Regions from separate parts of the Homo sapiens genome. Here region 1 is linked to region 2. A link means that fine-mapping ties the variant in region 2 to the plasma level of a protein whose gene starts in the linked region. Region 2 holds a variant in brackets. A gene starts in the other region. All regions are shown on their reverse strands.

Evidence for each region. A credible set is the group of variants that fine-mapping cannot tell apart. PIP is the chance, under the fine-mapping model, that this variant and not a neighbour inherited with it causes the effect. Protein levels are from antibody-based Olink assays in UK Biobank. Linkage for the fine-mapping came from a reference panel and not from the study's own genotypes, which makes the PIPs less certain.
Region 1: it holds the start of TIE1, and the variant in region 2 is the best candidate, but not a certain one, in a credible set for the plasma level of the TIE1 protein (UK Biobank, PIP 0.62).

The regions. Positions count from the first base shown.
Region 1 is chr1:43,295,428-43,306,535 of GRCh38, reverse strand. It overlaps TIE1 (tyrosine kinase with immunoglobulin like and EGF like domains 1), which reads right to left and starts at 5,554. Exons shown (of 23, transcript NM_005424.5): 1 at 5,407-5,554; 2 at 1,371-1,685; 3 at 1,193-1,303. The coding sequence starts at 5,464. RefSeq lists an enhancer at 5,495-5,584 and a silencer at 5,615-5,714.
Region 2 is chr19:48,747,185-48,753,440 of GRCh38, reverse strand. FUT1 (fucosyltransferase 1 (H blood group)) reads left to right here and starts at 800. Exons shown (of 2, transcript NM_001384359.1): 1 at 800-951; 2 at 2,158-5,430. The coding sequence starts at 2,160. The coding sequence ends at 3,257. RefSeq lists enhancers at 12-598, 1,804-2,443, 5,466-6,251, 6,252-6,256 and a silencer at 714-763. The variant G/A (reference allele first, on the strand shown) is at 3,309.

The DNA.
Region 1 (11,108 bases), not on the chromosome of region 2:
GCTCCTCTGCCTCCAGTGTCACCCTTTCTTGTCCCTCCTCCACCCAGCAGCCAGGGTGATTTTTTACAACAGACTCCTCTCTAACTCCTCTGCTGAAACTCTCCTGGTTCTCCAGTGACCTCAGGACAAAAATCCAGCTCCTTAGACATCATTTTCACCAACTTGGCCGTGGCCAAGCCATCCAGCCCCATTCGTCTTCACACCCTTCTTGACTCCTAACATTCCTGAATTCCTGAATGGATTGTTTCTCTTCTAGAAACACCCTTGTGTTTCAGACCCTACTGCTCTTCTCAGTCCCTCCTCCTGGAAGGCCCTTCCTTCCTTTTCTGCCTTCTTTGTCTTCCCACTTCTCCTCTGAGCACAATTCAAGTGCCATCTACTCTAGGGTCTCTCCCCTGAGCCTCTCCCTCTTAGAAGAGTGCTCCAGTCGCTGCCCCACCCGCTTCTTGCCTCTTTGCTCAGGGCTGAACAGAGAGCCTAGAGACCCAGGTCTGCCTGTGCCTCTTCACATTTCCTGTCAATTCACGGGGTCCAGAGCTCAGGAGGCAGCCCCCTTGGCCAAAGGGAAGGGTCTTCCTCCCTCAGGAGCCCAGGTATGCAAGAGTCAGCCAAGGGGTTGTGAATCTGAGGACTGAGGCAGGAATCTTGGGGCCACATAGGAAAACAGCTTCCTTCTATGGGGTGGCCAAAGGGTCAGGGTGGAGGACAGGCCTGGGACTGAGATCCCACGGGTCTACCCAGGCCTCAGCATGAGGCTGTCTTGGGCATCAAGGATCTGGGCTGGACAGATCTTTGGGAGAGGCTAGACTCTGCCCTGCCTGTGTTGGGCATGATGTTACCAGTTCTCTTCCTCCTCAGGGGGACTGATGCGGTCTGCCAGGTGGGCTATGTGACAGCACCTGCTAACTCCCAGGGGAGAGATGAGGGTTTAACATCGTGCTCATTTGGGGCTAAGAGGGAAGGGGCAGCTGACCACAGGCTCCTGGCCCTCTGTGTACAGAAGGAAGGCAGCTCAGAACTACAGATAAGATGGGTGCAGGCACATCCCATGGGACCTGGTCCACTACAGAGGAGAGGCCCTGGAGGTCGGGTGTGTCAGGGGCCAAAGCTGAGGGTCCCATGGGTCATGAAAGTGTTGGGGCCTCAGAACGATGGGTCTACCCTCCCCACCAGTTCAAATGCCCCTCTTTACCGTTGCTCTTCCAGATCACGTCTGTCTGCTTCTCCTTGTGCACACGTGCAGAAAGTACAGCGGTGTCACCTTTGTTCACAGTGTGTGTGACCTTGTCTGGAAGCAGGTGGGCTGCGGGGTGGAAGGTGGGTCAGCGGCCTGGTTTTCCCCGCGCCATCCCCCCGCCTGCCTAACTCACCTCCAGGGCTGTTGTGCACGTAGATGACGCGCGTGCGCCGCGCCCCAGCACCGCCCACGCAGGAGAAGACGCCCACGAGGTCCGAGGGCTTGGAGAAGCCGCGAAGCGTGACCTGGTGCGAACCGTTGCGCGCCAGGCGCAGGGGTGGCCCGGGCGGGGTGCGCACGATACGGTCGTCCTTCTCCAGCAGCAGGGGCGGGCCCCAGGCGTCCGAGCCCCTCCCCGCCCCGGCCTCCCCAGACACGCAAGTCAGGAAGAAGCGCTGGGGGTCCGTGAGCCGCAGGTTGGCCAGCAGCGTCAGGTCCACCGCCGCGCCTGGGGCCAGGACACCAGTGACTCTATTGTAGTCCCAGCCAACCCTAGTGCCCCAGAGCCCCCAGCCCCAGCCCTCTGGTCTTACTGATCCACCGTCCACTCAGAAGAGGGTCTCCAACCTTCACCCCTCTTCCTTCCCCTGCCCGGTTCTTCAGACCCCACAGGCCTCACTTTATCAGGCATTCCCATCCCCCTCCTTTCCCCTTCCATGCGCACTGGCCTCTTTCCCTCAAGTCTCTTCATTCTAAAAGAACAAAAACAAAACCACGAATCCTTCTCTGGCCGTGTCCCCTCCCTTCTCCTGCCAGATGGCTTCCCTTTCGCCCCAGCTTTCGGAAAGAATGATCTATGCTCCCTGTCTCCGTTTCCTCACTTTATTTCTATCAGTCCTGTTTCCCCACTCGTCTCTAAAACTGCCCTGCAAAGGTTGCTGTGAGCCACTTCTCCCTGCCTCCACCACGAGAGTGCAGGCCAGGAGAGCCAGCCAGAACAGAAGTGTCCCATGGGTCCCCCTCTCTGTCACTATGGAGATCTAGAAATGTCTGGTGGGCTGGGATTTGAGGTGGGAGAGGCTGAGTTTTGCAGCCAGAAGGTTGTGGCACAGAAATGGAGCTAGGGCTGGGTGCGGTGGCTCACGCCTGGAATCCCAGCACTTAAGGAGGCAGAGGTGGGAGGATCCTTTGAGCACAGGAGTTTGAGATCAGCCAGGGCAACATAGCAAGACCCCATTCTCCAGAAAAAGAAAAACAAAAAGAAATGGAGCTAAGCTTGGGGCTGGGCCCAGAGCCAGGGAGGGCAGCCCCAGGGCAAGGCCTGGAGCCCAGACAGACACAGACACGAGGTAGGTCTTGGTCTTTGTTTGCCTTCCAAAGAGCTCACGCCCTAGTTGGAGGAACAGGCATGAACACAGCTGCCAAATGTAGGGCGCTGTGCTTTTGAGCACAGAGAAGGGACCCCTGCTCCAGCCTGGGGGAGCTCAGGGAGATGAAGAGATGCTTCCTGGGAGGTACAGTTGGAGCAGGGCACATTGGCGTGAGGACAATGGGGAGGGAGAGAAATCAGGGGCAGGGAGAGGGCATCCTAGACAGAGGGAACAGCCTGGACAGAGGCCTGCAGTGGCAATATTGTGGCAGGTGGAGGGGGCTCTCCAGGTTTGTGTGACTGGAGTACAAAATGTGAGGCTGAGGCAGGAGAGATCAGGTGGAGTCAGAGTCCAGTCTGGACGGTGGAGAGCCTGCGAGCCTGCCTTAGCTCCAGGACCCAGAACCCCTCCACCAGCCAAGCCCTTCCTTCTCTGTCTCTTGTAGCTGACTGTCAAGCAGTTCATTAGTTTAAATGCCACCTAGCTTATCAGTGTTTGAAAGGCTACCATGAGCAAACGAAGCTGGCATTTACTGACCGCCCACCACATACCAACCCCCATTTTCCACTGGATCCTCACAACCAGTGAAGTGGATATTCTTTCCAGTTACAGAGGAGGATCATGGTAATTATTCTACTGGCTTCTTTGAGCAAGCTCGCCCACTCCCCCAGTTTTAACCATCACCTCTGAGTCAGTAACTCGGGAACGGTCTTTCAGCTTGGACCTGCATTTCCATCAGCTTTTCCCAAATCTGCTCCTCTCCAGTGCTCCCTGACTCACTGGACAGCACCCGCCACTTGAGACACAAACTATGGAGTCATCTCTACTCCCATTGTCATAATAATGAATGTTTATTGGCTGCCAGTTATGCACCAGGCACTTTACTGATATTGTTTCATTTTACCATCCCAGCTATCCTGGGAGGTGGATGTTATTATCCCTGTTTTATAGCCAGGAAAGGGAGGCTCAGAGAAGTTAAGTAACTTGCCCAAGGTCATACAATTAGTGAGTGGCAGGGCCAGGTTGTCTGATTCTAAAGTCCACATCTCTGAGCACTGTGCTGCCTGCCTCATCAGTCATAGAATTCTGCACATTGTTTCCTGAACGCTTCTTGACTTCATCCCCACCCCCCCAGCCTGCCTTTGTTCAGCCCTCATCCTTACTCACCTAGACCATCCCAACAGCCACAGCCCCTCCTTCTGCAACTCATCCTCCACGGTGATCTAAGACCAAACCTGACCTTGTGACTTTCTTGCCTGTGACCTCCCATGGCTCCCTATTGCCCTCAGGATAATGTTCGTGCTCCTAAGCCCCGTGATGCTCCCACGCTATCCCTCCTGTTGTGTTCCTAACAGGCACCTTCTCTCCCATGCACCTCCATGCCTCTGAGACTTGCATTTTTTATGTTCTGGCTGCCTGGAATGAAGACCACCCCTCTTAGTGAAATCTTCCTTGATTCCCTTTTTGTCTCCTACCTGAGGCAGTGTAAGCTGAACTCCTCCTCAGTGCTCCTCTAGAGCTCCTGTGTCTGTCCCTGTTTAGCCCTCTTCCCCTGTCCTGTGTTCTGCACTAGACCATGAACCACTCAAAGGCAGCCTCTGTGTTCTAATCGGCTGACCAGCAGACTGAAGGAATCAGCTGCCACCTACTCAGAAATCCTTACCAAGCACAGTGCACTGTGCCAACTGCTCTGCATCATTTTCTCATTTAAACCCCATAACAACCATAGGAGGCTGGCATCATTTAATCTCATTGTACAGACTAGGTGTTGCCAGCCTCTCAACTAATGGCCCAGCACTTAGCACAACTCCTGGAATATTGTTGGTGCTCAATAAATGTTTGTCCAGTGAACAACTGAGTGAATCCAACACAATTACCCTATGAACACCCCCTGAAAATGGCCCTCCACAGATCCTCAGATCCAACACAGTCAGCGGCTACTCCTCACTCCTCCCCTGATCCCAGGTTGCAGTGATTTCTAGCACTTGCCTGTGTTTTCCTGGCCTTGATCTCACTTTCTAGTGGATCAAAGTGATGGCAGTGATGATAGGGCTTGTTTTCCAAAATTTTTTGTTGTGGTGAAATGCATATAAAATAAATTTTACCATCTTTTTTTCTTTTTAGATGAGTCTTGCTCTGTCGCCCAGGCTGGAGTGCAGTGGCGCGATCTCAGCTCACTGCAACCTCTGCCTCCCAGATTCAAGCGATTCTCTTGCCTCAGCCTCCCAAGTAGCTGGGATTACAGGCTCCTGCCACCACGCCCGGCTAATTTTTGTATTTTTAGTAGAGATGGGGTTTCACCATGTTTGCCAGGCTGGTCTCGATCTCCTGACCCTGTGATCCACCCGCTCGGCCTCCCAAAGTGCCGGGATTACAGGCGTGAGCCACCACACCCGGCAAATTTTGCCATCTTAACCATTTGTAAGCAGCATATAACCCAATGTGATTAAATACATTCCTAGTGTTGTCCCACCATCACCACCATCCATCCTTTTTTTTTTTTTTTGAAAAAGACGAAAGTCTAAACACAATGGAGACGGGGTCTCACTATGTTGACCAGTCTGGTCTTGAACTCCTGGCCTCAATTGATCCTCCCATCTCAGCCATCCAAAGTGCTGGGATTACAGGTATGAACCACCGCACCCGGCCCCATGTTTATAACTCTTTTAATCTTGTAAAACCAAGTAAAAATCTTGTAAAAACGCTGTACCTTTTAAACAAAACTCCCCATTTCTTCCTCCCTGCAGCCCATGGCAACCATCATCCTACTTTCTGTCTCTATGATAAAATAGGGTTTCTTGGGTAGAAATCAGGGCCTCGGGGCCTAGAAATGGGGTGAGGGACTCAGGGGAGACTTACCCACATGAGAAGCCAAGAAGAGGATGGGGAGCAAGAAAGGGGGCACCCGCCAGACCATACTCCAGAGGCCGACCCAGGCCAGCCAGGACGAGCTGGGCCTGGGGTCAGATGCTGTGGGCCTGACTGCTCAGCCTGTGTTGGTCAGTGTGGGTCGGTGCTGGGGAGGAAGAGGAAATGAGGTGGCTTGGGTGGGAGGGGTGGCAGGGTAGGGGGTGGGAGGACTCATTCTGCCTTTGAGCCTCTAGGCCCCCCAATCTGGCCCCCACAAGGCTGGGGATGGGTGTGGCCTGGGAGGAGTCACTTGAGGTGGGGGGAAGGTTATGGTAAGGGCAGACCTGGGGACAGCTGGACTGATTTTTCCCATCCCCTGTCTCTCTCCAGTACTCAGTCTTGCTGGCACAAAGGAGGCAGGAGGCAGGAAAGGGAGGAAGCCAGTGGCTTCCGCCTATTGAGGAGGGGGGTGGGGTGGGGGACATTGTTCTGGGGTCTCCCCTCCCCCCGGCACAAACACACAATACGGCCCACATGAGTCCTCATGTATGTGCCCCAGGACACAGACAGTTACATGGGTTTCCTAGAGAGCAGTTCACATACGAAACACAAAGGACCTCTGTGGGCCTGAGAAGCACATACACTCAAAGGAACACAGGGCCCTGGCAACAAAGAGCCTTCGAGTCTACCTTGTGTACCTCTCTCATTGTACAGATGGGAAAACTGAGGCTTGCTGTGCTCGAGGGCACCCTGAGGCTGTGGCAAGGCTGGGACTTGAACTTCTGACTTAGTCCTTGCTTTCTTGGTGCCAATCGCTCCACAAGGGCTCACATTAAGCAGTCCCGGGGAGCACACAGGGAGTATCGGTTGCATAGATAGTCCTCAGCTTAAGCTGCTAATGAAAGCTTCAGCTTATTGTCTGCCAGGTGTCATTCATTTTGCGGCAAACCCCTGCCTATTCCTGGGCACTGGGGCAGCAGAAGTCTGCCCAGGGAGGTGCACTCACTCTTGACGGCTGACAACAACCTGGGAGCAGTCGCACTGCTTTGGCAAAGTCTCTAAAGCCCCATGGATCTTGCCTCTGCTTCCCTCCCAGACTCACCTCTCCCTGCCCTGGCACCCGTTGCTCCACCTCTTGCCACCACTGGCAGTTCCCAGAACGGAACAAGACCTGTAGGTACAGAACGCCCACGAGGAGGCCCTTCCAGGGAGCAGAGGGAGCAACCGTTGGATGGGCAGCCTTGCTGGTTAAATCGATGACCCCTCTGACCCGGAATGGAATGGTTGGGATGGATGAGACTTGGTGTCAGTTTAGGTGACTTAGGTCTGGTAGTACAAACCCTCCCCCTGGGCCTGGGACATCTTCCCAGAGTGTGTTCTGGGTGAAGGCTTCATTCTCCTCTGAATGCACCGGGCTCACATTCACTTTTCTCAGGAGGCTGGGTCCCTGCAGCTTGGTTGAGCTGGTTTAGGCCCAGGGCTCTTCTGAAGCGCCCTGAAAAGTCCCAGGAGACGCTTTGACTCCTGGAGTAGCATAGAAAAGGATCGGGAAAGACCTCCCTACTGATGTGTGACCCACAGAGATTCCCATTCCTGGGCCTGAGGCTGGGAGGAGCTTTCTCTAGACAAGGCTTTGGGTGGGATGGGAGTAGGAGCAGGGGGAGAGTGGTGGATGCCTTACACTTCAGCTCATCCTGGTGCCAGACCTTTGAATCTGGAATGAAAAAGGAGCTGGAAAGTGCTGGGACTGTTTGTATGGCAGGATTCACTTTTGTGGAACTTTTCCTTTGGTTCTTGGAAGACCTGGGGGGCCTGATGTCATTTTGCAAATGTGTGGAGAGCACTTAGGCAGCATTCATTCTTGTTGGAAGTGACACAGATATTGGCACAGGTATTTGCTTTGAATGGAAAAGTTTGAGACTGCAGGATGCTGGCACATGCAAAGATTCTGAGCCCATCTGCCCTCCCCACTCTCAACTGGGAAACAAAAACTGGTAATAATGATCTGTACATAAATAAAATGTTAATGGAGTTTGTACACAAGAATTTGTATTATAAAACAATATCCTACAAGTGTAAAAGTATTTTTACATGTGTTGAGATTATGCTGCAAGTAATTTAAATAGCATCAGTTTACAAACAATATGTCCCAAATGAAATATTACTGCACACACAAATTTTGAGTGGGTTGTGTATACATCTGCTGTTGCAGATGTATAAGACGACTTAAGCCATAATGCACATCTTGAAGTCTCAGTCACTCGAAAGTTATAGGCCAAAAATAATGCAAATATGAAGTTCTACACATTGGAGGGTTAACCTCCAAACCCAAAACAAACTGAATTGATAATGATAGAGTTAAACTCAAGGCGCCAGGTCAACTCAAGGTAATTTATTTTTTAACAGCCAAGCTCAGTGGCTCACACCCGTAATCCCAGCACTTTGGGAGGCCGAGGCGGGCATATCACTTGAGGCCAGGAGTTCGAGACCAGCCTGACCAATGTGGTGAAACCCCGTCTCTACCAAAAATACAAAAATTAGCCGGGCGTGGTGGCACGTGCCTGTAATCCCAGCTACTCAGAAGGCTGAGGTAAGAGAATCGCCTGAACCCGGGAGGTGGAAGTTGCAGTGGAGCCGAGATCGCGCCACTGCACTCCAGCCTGGGTGACAGAGCTAGACTCCCTCTCAAAAATAAAAATAAAAATAAAAAAACTCTTCCTCACTACCATACTCACTATCAGTTTGGCAGAAGTCTGGGAGTTTTATAACACACTGTCTTGGCAAGGTTGTGGGGAAATAGGCATGCTCTATATAGGCATGTTGATGTAATTCTGATGGAGGGCAACTTGGGAATATCTGTCAAATTCATGAACACACGTATCCTTGACTCACAATTGCATTCTTGGGAATTTATCCTGCAGATATACTCCCACAGTACAAAATGTCATGGTTATTCATTGTAGCATTATATGTAATGGCAGAAGATTAGGACCAATTCCTGTGTCAATCAATGGGGAAATGGTTAAATAAATTTTGATGTAGCTATACAGTAAAATATAACAGCTGTGAAATTAGTTGAAGAAACTCTCCAAGTCTATATACTGGTTTTTAAAAGCTCTCTAAGACATACTAATTAGTAAGTGATAAAAAGAAGGTACAGAAGTGTATATTGTATGTTAGCGTTTGCCTAAAAAAGAAAAAAATAGGAATATATATTCATACTGCATGTACAGGTTGAGTATCCCTTATCCAAAATGCTAGGGACAAGAAGTGTTCAGATTTCAGGTTTTCTGAATTTTGGGATATTTTCATATACATAATGAAATATCTTGGGGATAAGACCCAGGTCTAAATATGGAATTCATTTATGTTTCATGCATACCTTATACACATAGCCTGAAGGTAATTTTAAACAATATTTCATATGATATATATGACCCATCACATGAGGTCAGGTGTGGATTTTTCACCTGTGGCATCACAAAGTGTTCAAAAAGTTTCAAATTTGGGAGCATTTCAGATTTCACATTTTCGGATTGGGGTGCTCAACCTGTATTTGCACAGGGTGAATATCTGTTGTGGTATTAAGTTCCACTTTGGAGGGAGTGCTCATTTGGAAACCATTCAAAGAATTTTTAAAAAATTTTTCTTTTATGTTAGTAAAGGTCCATCCCCTGTGGCCACCCCAGCGGGTTGGACTCACTGTTCTCCAAGTGACCGTCATGATCAAGAGGGACAGGAAAGCCTGACTCTCCAAGTTCCACTCATTTCCCTTAACAGGTGGCTCAGACAACAAACTGCTTTATGCCCCTTAGAACATTCATTTGGGTCTTTTGTGTGGCTTCTTACAATGCCCTTAGGGTTTTAGACCACATGTAAATACATGTGGAAACATTTGACAGACTCTTAAAAATGTCTATGAATTTGATTTAATTTTCTCTATAGACAAACTCCATAGTCTTCTTGCAGAAATGATGCTCAGTTGAGATCCATTTGGGTGAAATTGTTATGCAAATTATGCATAAAAAAGCTGGTGAAATTCGGGACTGGATCAACAGAGGATGAGTCAGGGGGGAAAGAATGAACCTCTCTAAGTTGCTCCCCAAAAATGAAGTCAGGGCTATCTGAATTAAAGTGTCAAATTGGTACTCTTCTAAGTAACGGAGACCTCTCCCAATTAAACTTGCCAGACTGGGGTGGGTTACATGGGTGACCATGCAATTATTTTTCAAAATAGTGAGAGGCCCGGCACAGTGGCTCATGCCTGTAATCCCAGCACTTTGGGAGGTCGAGGCAGGCAGATCGCCTGAGGCCAGGAGTTCAAGACCACCCTGGCCAACATAGTGAAACCCCATGTCTACTAAAAATACAAAAAGATTAACCAGATGTGGTAGCACGCGCCTGTAGTCCCAGCTACTTGGGAGGCTGAGGCACAAGAATTGCTTGAACCCAGGAGGCAGAGGTTGCAGTGAGCTGAGATCATGCCATTGCACTCCAGCCTGGGTGACAGAGTGAGACTTTGTCTCAAAAAATAAAAAAGAATAAATAAAAGATAAACAGTGAGAGTCCCATCTTTGCTTCTTAAAGTCAAACTATTATATATAAACTATGTAAAGTCAGTATGTGAAGTAGAATGCTGCTTTGTTTTGCTCAGTGATTTTAAAGGGAAGGGGTAGTTGCAATTTTCCTCCCAAATTACATTCCTGTGTTCTCCTGAAGCATGCCCTTGTGTCTTGGCTCCTAGAATATTTTGAAAAGTATTTAAGATATTTCTTTGTTATGTGCAACTCCAAATGCTGGCATCTTTTTATATGCCAATAAGTGCCTTAACTCTCTGTACTGTTTGTCACAATTGCTTTTCGAAGAACCAAGTAAATGCTGCCCAAACAAATTAGAAAGTTTTCTTTTGGTTGAAATAAGCAACACTTTAACCCAATTCCTAAGTTCTGCCTTTGCCTGAAATTGACTTTACTGATAAATCATTCTTCATACTGATCAGCAAAGAAAGGAAAAATATCTTGTTCTTGTTGTTGTCCAAAAAAAAGAAAAGAAAAAGAAAGTAATTCTTTTAAGATTTTGTTTAGGTTAATAGTAACAATGGTTGGTACTTTCACTTAACTTCAGCAGCAACTAAAGCCACATTGTCAATTCAAAAACAGTTTTTGTTGTTCTTCCAGGAAATAACTCTGTAGTGAGAGGAAGTTTGCAGTAAATGCTTTTGGAGCATCAGGCTGAGGCTGTGTCCCTGAAGCTAGTGTGTGTGTGTGTGTGTGTGTGTGTGTGTGTGTGTGTGTGTGTGTGTGTTTTCACTCTAGTCAGAAAAGACGTGCCAGGTGTTTGTGACAAGCTGTGATGAGGACTGGAGATTACTTGGAATCCATTGTGTTCTTTTCCTTGTTGGAAAAAGAAAGCTTCTAAAAACAAGCCCTTATTTAAAGGAAGCCCCAGTTAATTCAACAAGGCTCTGAAAGAAGTCCCTTTTATAGAAACTGCTTGACAAAGGCCATTTGGCCCAGAGGAGTCCTGTGAGGTCAGAAACTGAAATCAACACCCACATAGGGTTCAGGCAGTTAGAAGCTCAGAGTGTACTTAGTAAAGCATAACAAACTTTTACCCACTTTGGTCAGAATGGAATTTACCCAGCAATGCAGAGTCTTATGCTAGAACACCAACAAACCTCAATTATAATGGCTAACAGTTGCTACGGGTTT
Region 2 (6,256 bases):
GGGCAGAGGCCTTTGTCTCTGGCGCCGGCAGCCACGGCCCCCGCTGACGGCGTGGGAAACAGACCCTGTTCCACTCCGGTCTCCAGCCTTGGAATGGTTGCCTTCGTGCAGTGCAGGTCTGGAAAGTAGCAGTTTGGCACGGGACCCTAGAATTCCCCAAAAGGAGTGACTAGGGGCTGGGATTCTGGAATTTGAGTGTGGACGGTGAGGCGGGGGGTGTGGGAGATCGGAGACCCTGGTGGGCGCGGGAGCACCTGCAGGCTGGAGGCCCTCGCGCGCTCCGGCGGCAGCCTGGCAAACAGGTTCTCCATCCCCCAGGAGGACGCGGCAGAGGGCGGACGATCGCTCCACTCGCCGGGACCAGGTGCGGGGGCCCTGCCCAGCCGCTGGGGCGTGGCCAGGCTCGAAGCACCCAGGTGTCGGGGGCCGACTCTAAGCCCTGGCACCGGAAGAGAGAGGGCGGCGGATTGGACCTCCCGGCTCCAGCATTGCAACTGGGCGCTCCGTCTCCTGGTCCACGCAATGATGCTGCGGCTGCTCAGAAGCCAGGTAGCCTGCCCTGGGTGAAGCCTTCGCGCAGGTCAATGACGGGGCGGAGGGGCAGGGCGCGGTCCCCTGCATCCCCGATCTGGGGAGCGGTGGGCCCAGGGGCCATCGCCTTAGCCCCTGGCGCTGGGGCTCGGCGCCAAGTGACGGGCGGGGCTCCACCTTCCAGCCATCCGCCCGGCCCGGGAGGGCGGACGCTGCGAGACTCCCGGCCGCGCCCTCTCCTTCCTCTCCTCCCCAAGCCCTCGCTGCCAGTCCGGACAGGCTGCGCGGAGGGGAGGGCTGCCGGGCCGGATAGCCGGACGCCTGGCGTTCCAGGGGCGGCCGGATGTGGCCTGCCTTTGCGGAGGGTGCGCTCCGGCCACGAAAAGCGGACTGTGGATCTGCCACCTGCAAGCAGCTCGGGTAAGTGGGGACTGCCCCACTCAGTTGTTCCTGGGACCCAGGAACAACTCCTTCAGAACCAGGAGGTGCACCCCCAACCTCTTCTCCAGGTCTTCCTAAGGCCCTAGGAATCTCCGCCACCTCCCCAGCCATTACTCCTCCAGGAACCAAGATGCTCCTTCCGCTCCTGACCCTCCAGCCTCTCTTGTTTTACTTGAACTATCGTTTCCCATCACCACCTCTGTGGTGGATTTTGCGCCTCACAGACAGGTACTCCTGAGAAACAGGCTGGTGGAAGAGTCCAGTATCAGCGGAACTTACAGGAGGGGAGACTCGAGATTCCTTCAGGAAAGGTGTAGGAACCTGGACCACTTTCTTTTTTTTTTTTTTTTTTTTTTTTTAAGACAGGGTCCCTCTCTGTCGCGCAAGCTGGAGTGCAGTCAGCGGTGCTATCGCGGCTCATTGTGAGCTCCGGGGATCCTCCCGCCTTAGCATCCGGTGTAGCTGAGACCACAGACATGTGCCACCATGCCAAGCTAATTTTATTTATTTTTTTTTGGAGACGGAGTTTCACTCTTGTTGCCCAGGCTGGAGTGTAATGGCATGATCTCAGCTCACCGCAACTCCCGCCCCCCGGGTTCAGGCGATTCTCCTGCCTCAGCCTCCCGAGTGGCTGGGATTACAGGCATGCGCCACCATGCCCGGCTAATTTTGTATTTTAAGTAGAGACAGGGTTTCTCCACGTTGGTCAGGCTGGTCTCGAACTCCCAACCTCAGGTGATCCACCCACCTTGGCCTCCCAAAGTGCTGGGGTTACAGGTGTGAGCCACCGCGCCTGGCCCATGCCAAGCTAATTTTAAAATTTTTTTGTAAGAGTGCTCTGTTGCCCAGGCTGATCTTGAACTCCTGGGCTCAAGGGATCCTCCCATCTCAGCCTCCCAATATGCTGGGATTACAGGTGTGAGCCACAGTGCCCAGCCAAACCATGGCTATCTTGAAAACCACTTGTCTTCCAGTCCCCATGCCCCGAAATTCCAAGGCTCTCATCCCTGAAACCTAGGACTCAGGCTCTCCCTACCTCAGCCCCAGGAGTCTAAACCTTTAACTTCCTCTTTCCCTGGGACTAAGGAGTGCTGCACCCCAGGCGCCTCCCTTACCCCACATCCCTCCTCAGCCTCCCCTCCTCAGCCTCAGAGCATTTGCTAATTCGCCTTTCCTCCCCTGCAGCCATGTGGCTCCGGAGCCATCGTCAGCTCTGCCTGGCCTTCCTGCTAGTCTGTGTCCTCTCTGTAATCTTCTTCCTCCATATCCATCAAGACAGCTTTCCACATGGCCTAGGCCTGTCGATCCTGTGTCCAGACCGCCGCCTGGTGACACCCCCAGTGGCCATCTTCTGCCTGCCGGGTACTGCGATGGGCCCCAACGCCTCCTCTTCCTGTCCCCAGCACCCTGCTTCCCTCTCCGGCACCTGGACTGTCTACCCCAATGGCCGGTTTGGTAATCAGATGGGACAGTATGCCACGCTGCTGGCTCTGGCCCAGCTCAACGGCCGCCGGGCCTTTATCCTGCCTGCCATGCATGCCGCCCTGGCCCCGGTATTCCGCATCACCCTGCCCGTGCTGGCCCCAGAAGTGGACAGCCGCACGCCGTGGCGGGAGCTGCAGCTTCACGACTGGATGTCGGAGGAGTACGCGGACTTGAGAGATCCTTTCCTGAAGCTCTCTGGCTTCCCCTGCTCTTGGACTTTCTTCCACCATCTCCGGGAACAGATCCGCAGAGAGTTCACCCTGCACGACCACCTTCGGGAAGAGGCGCAGAGTGTGCTGGGTCAGCTCCGCCTGGGCCGCACAGGGGACCGCCCGCGCACCTTTGTCGGCGTCCACGTGCGCCGTGGGGACTATCTGCAGGTTATGCCTCAGCGCTGGAAGGGTGTGGTGGGCGACAGCGCCTACCTCCGGCAGGCCATGGACTGGTTCCGGGCACGGCACGAAGCCCCCGTTTTCGTGGTCACCAGCAACGGCATGGAGTGGTGTAAAGAAAACATCGACACCTCCCAGGGCGATGTGACGTTTGCTGGCGATGGACAGGAGGCTACACCGTGGAAAGACTTTGCCCTGCTCACACAGTGCAACCACACCATTATGACCATTGGCACCTTCGGCTTCTGGGCTGCCTACCTGGCTGGCGGAGACACTGTCTACCTGGCCAACTTCACCCTGCCAGACTCTGAGTTCCTGAAGATCTTTAAGCCGGAGGCGGCCTTCCTGCCCGAGTGGGTGGGCATTAATGCAGACTTGTCTCCACTCTGGACATTGGCTAAGCCTTGAGAGCCAGGGAGACTTTCTGAAGTAGCCTGATCTTTCTAGAGCCAGCAGTAC[G/A]TGGCTTCAGAGGCCTGGCATCTTCTGGAGAAGCTTGTGGTGTTCCTGAAGCAAATGGGTGCCCGTATCCAGAGTGATTCTAGTTGGGAGAGTTGGAGAGAAGGGGGACGTTTCTGGAACTGTCTGAATATTCTAGAACTAGCAAAACATCTTTTCCTGATGGCTGGCAGGCAGTTCTAGAAGCCACAGTGCCCACCTGCTCTTCCCAGCCCATATCTACAGTACTTCCAGATGGCTGCCCCCAGGAATGGGGAACTCTCCCTCTGGTCTACTCTAGAAGAGGGGTTACTTCTCCCCTGGGTCCTCCAAAGACTGAAGGAGCATATGATTGCTCCAGAGCAAGCATTCACCAAGTCCCCTTCTGTGTTTCTGGAGTGATTCTAGAGGGAGACTTGTTCTAGAGAGGACCAGGTTTGATGCCTGTGAAGAACCCTGCAGGGCCCTTATGGACAGGATGGGGTTCTGGAAATCCAGATAACTAAGGTGAAGAATCTTTTTAGTTTTTTTTTTTTTTTTTTGGAGACAGGGTCTCGCTCTGTTGCCCAGGCTGGAGTGCAGTGGCGTGATCTTGGCTCACTGCAACTTCCGCCTCCTGTGTTCAAGCGATTCTCCTGTCTCAGCCTCCTGAGTAGATGGGACTACAGGCACAGGCCATTATGCCTGGCTAATTTTTGTATTTTTAGTAGAGACAGGGTTTCACCATGTTGGCCAGGATGGTCTCGATCTCCTGACCTTGTCATCCACCTGTCTTGGCCTCCCAAAGTGCTGGGATTACTGGCATGAGCCACTGTGCCCAGCCCGGATATTTTTTTTTTAATTATTTATTTATTTATTTATTTATTGAGACGGAGTCTTGCTCTGTAGCCCAGGCCAGAGTGCAGTGGCGCGATCTCAGCTCACTGCAAGCTCTGCCTCCCGGGTTCATGCCATTCTGCCTCAGCCTCCTGAGTAGCTGGGACTACAGGCGCCCGCCACCACGCCCGGCTAATTTTTTTTGTATTTTTAGTAGAGACGGGGTTTCATCGTGTTAACCAGGATGGTCTCGATCTCCTGACCTCGTGATCTGCCCACCTCGGCCTCCCACAGTGCTGGGATTACCGGCGTGAGCCACCATGCCTGGCCCGGATAATTTTTTTTAATTTTTGTAGAGACGAGGTCTTGTGATATTGCCCAGGCTGTTCTTCAACTCCTGGGCTCAAGCAGTCCTCCCACCTTGGCCTCCCAGAATGCTGGGTTTATAGATGTGAGCCAGCACACCGGGCCAAGTGAAGAATCTAATGAATGTGCAACCTAATTGTAGCATCTAATGAATGTTCCACCATTGCTGGAAAAATTGAGATGGAAAACAAACCATCTCTAGTTGGCCAGCGTCTTGCTCTGTTCACAGTCTCTGGAAAAGCTGGGGTAGTTGGTGAGCAGAGCGGGACTCTGTCCAACAAGCCCCACAGCCCCTCAAAGACTTTTTTTTGTTTGTTTTGAGCAGACAGGCTAAAATGTGAACGTGGGGTGAGGGATCACTGCCAAAATGGTACAGCTTCTGGAGCAGAACTTTCCAGGGATCCAGGGACACTTTTTTTTAAAGCTCATAAACTGCCAAGAGCTCCATATATTGGGTGTGAGTTCAGGTTGCCTCTCACAATGAAGGAAGTTGGTCTTTGTCTGCAGGTGGGCTGCTGAGGGTCTGGGATCTGTTTTCTGGAAGTGTGCAGGTATAAACACACCCTCTGTGCTTGTGACAAACTGGCAGGTACCGTGCTCATTGCTAACCACTGTCTGTCCCTGAACTCCCAGAACCACTACATCTGGCTTTGGGCAGGTCTGAGATAAAACGATCTAAAGGTAGGCAGACCCTGGACCCAGCCTCAGATCCAGGCAGGAGCACGAGGTCTGGCCAAGGTGGACGGGGTTGTCGAGATCTCAGGAGCCCCTTGCTGTTTTTTGGAGGGTGAAAGAAGAAACCTTAAACATAGTCAGCTCTGATCACATCCCCTGTCTACTCATCCAGACCCCATGCCTGTAGGCTTATCAGGGAGTTACAGTTACAATTGTTACAGTACTGTTCCCAACTCAGCTGCCACGGGTGAGAGAGCAGGAGGTATGAATTAAAAGTCTACAGCACTAACCCGTGTCTCTGTAGCTTTTTTGGAGCCAGAGCCACTGTGTATGTGTGTGTGGGTTTGTGTGTGTGTGTGTGTGTGTGTGTGTGTAAGAGAGTGGAGGAAAAGGTGGGGTACTTCTGAAGACTTTTATTTTTTTTTAATTAATTTATTTTTTTTCAGAGATCGAGTCTTGCTCTGTGGCCCAGGCTGGAGTGCAGTAGTGTGATCTCGGCCCACTGCAAACTCCCACCTCTCGGATTCTGGTGCCTCAGCCTCCCAAGTAGCTGGGACTACAGACGTTCGCCACCATGCCCAGCTAATTTTTGTATTTTTAGTAGAGACGGGGTTTCACCATGTTAGCCAGGCTGGCCTCGAACTCCTGACCTCAGACAATCTGCCCGCCTCGGCCTCCCAAAGCGCTGGAATTACAAGCGTGAGCCACCGCGCCGGGCCCTGAGGATTTTTATTACTCGTGATTGGGAGTACTGTCCCTACTTAGATCTGACAGCCCCTTGTTGCTGGACTTGTGTGAGTTGTGGTCCCTGTTTTTCTGGTTCCCTGTTTCTATCACACAGGAGAGAGAGACCTTCCAGGACCCTAACGTCTGAGCCCCCAGTTGCTCACTCCTGGACTGTCAGTATTGGCCCCCAGTCCTCTCCTCCCACTGGGACCTCCGCGTGGGCAGAAGAGGCGGAGGAGGGAGCGGATTATCACTGAACTACATTTCCCGGAAAGCTATGAGGTTGGCAGCGTCAGTCAGCTACAGAGAAAGAGGCCCCAGGGCATTTTGGGAGTTGTAGTCTTAGGGCTAAAATGTCCACTTCGTGGCTCGACAGCCGTTTCCAAGGA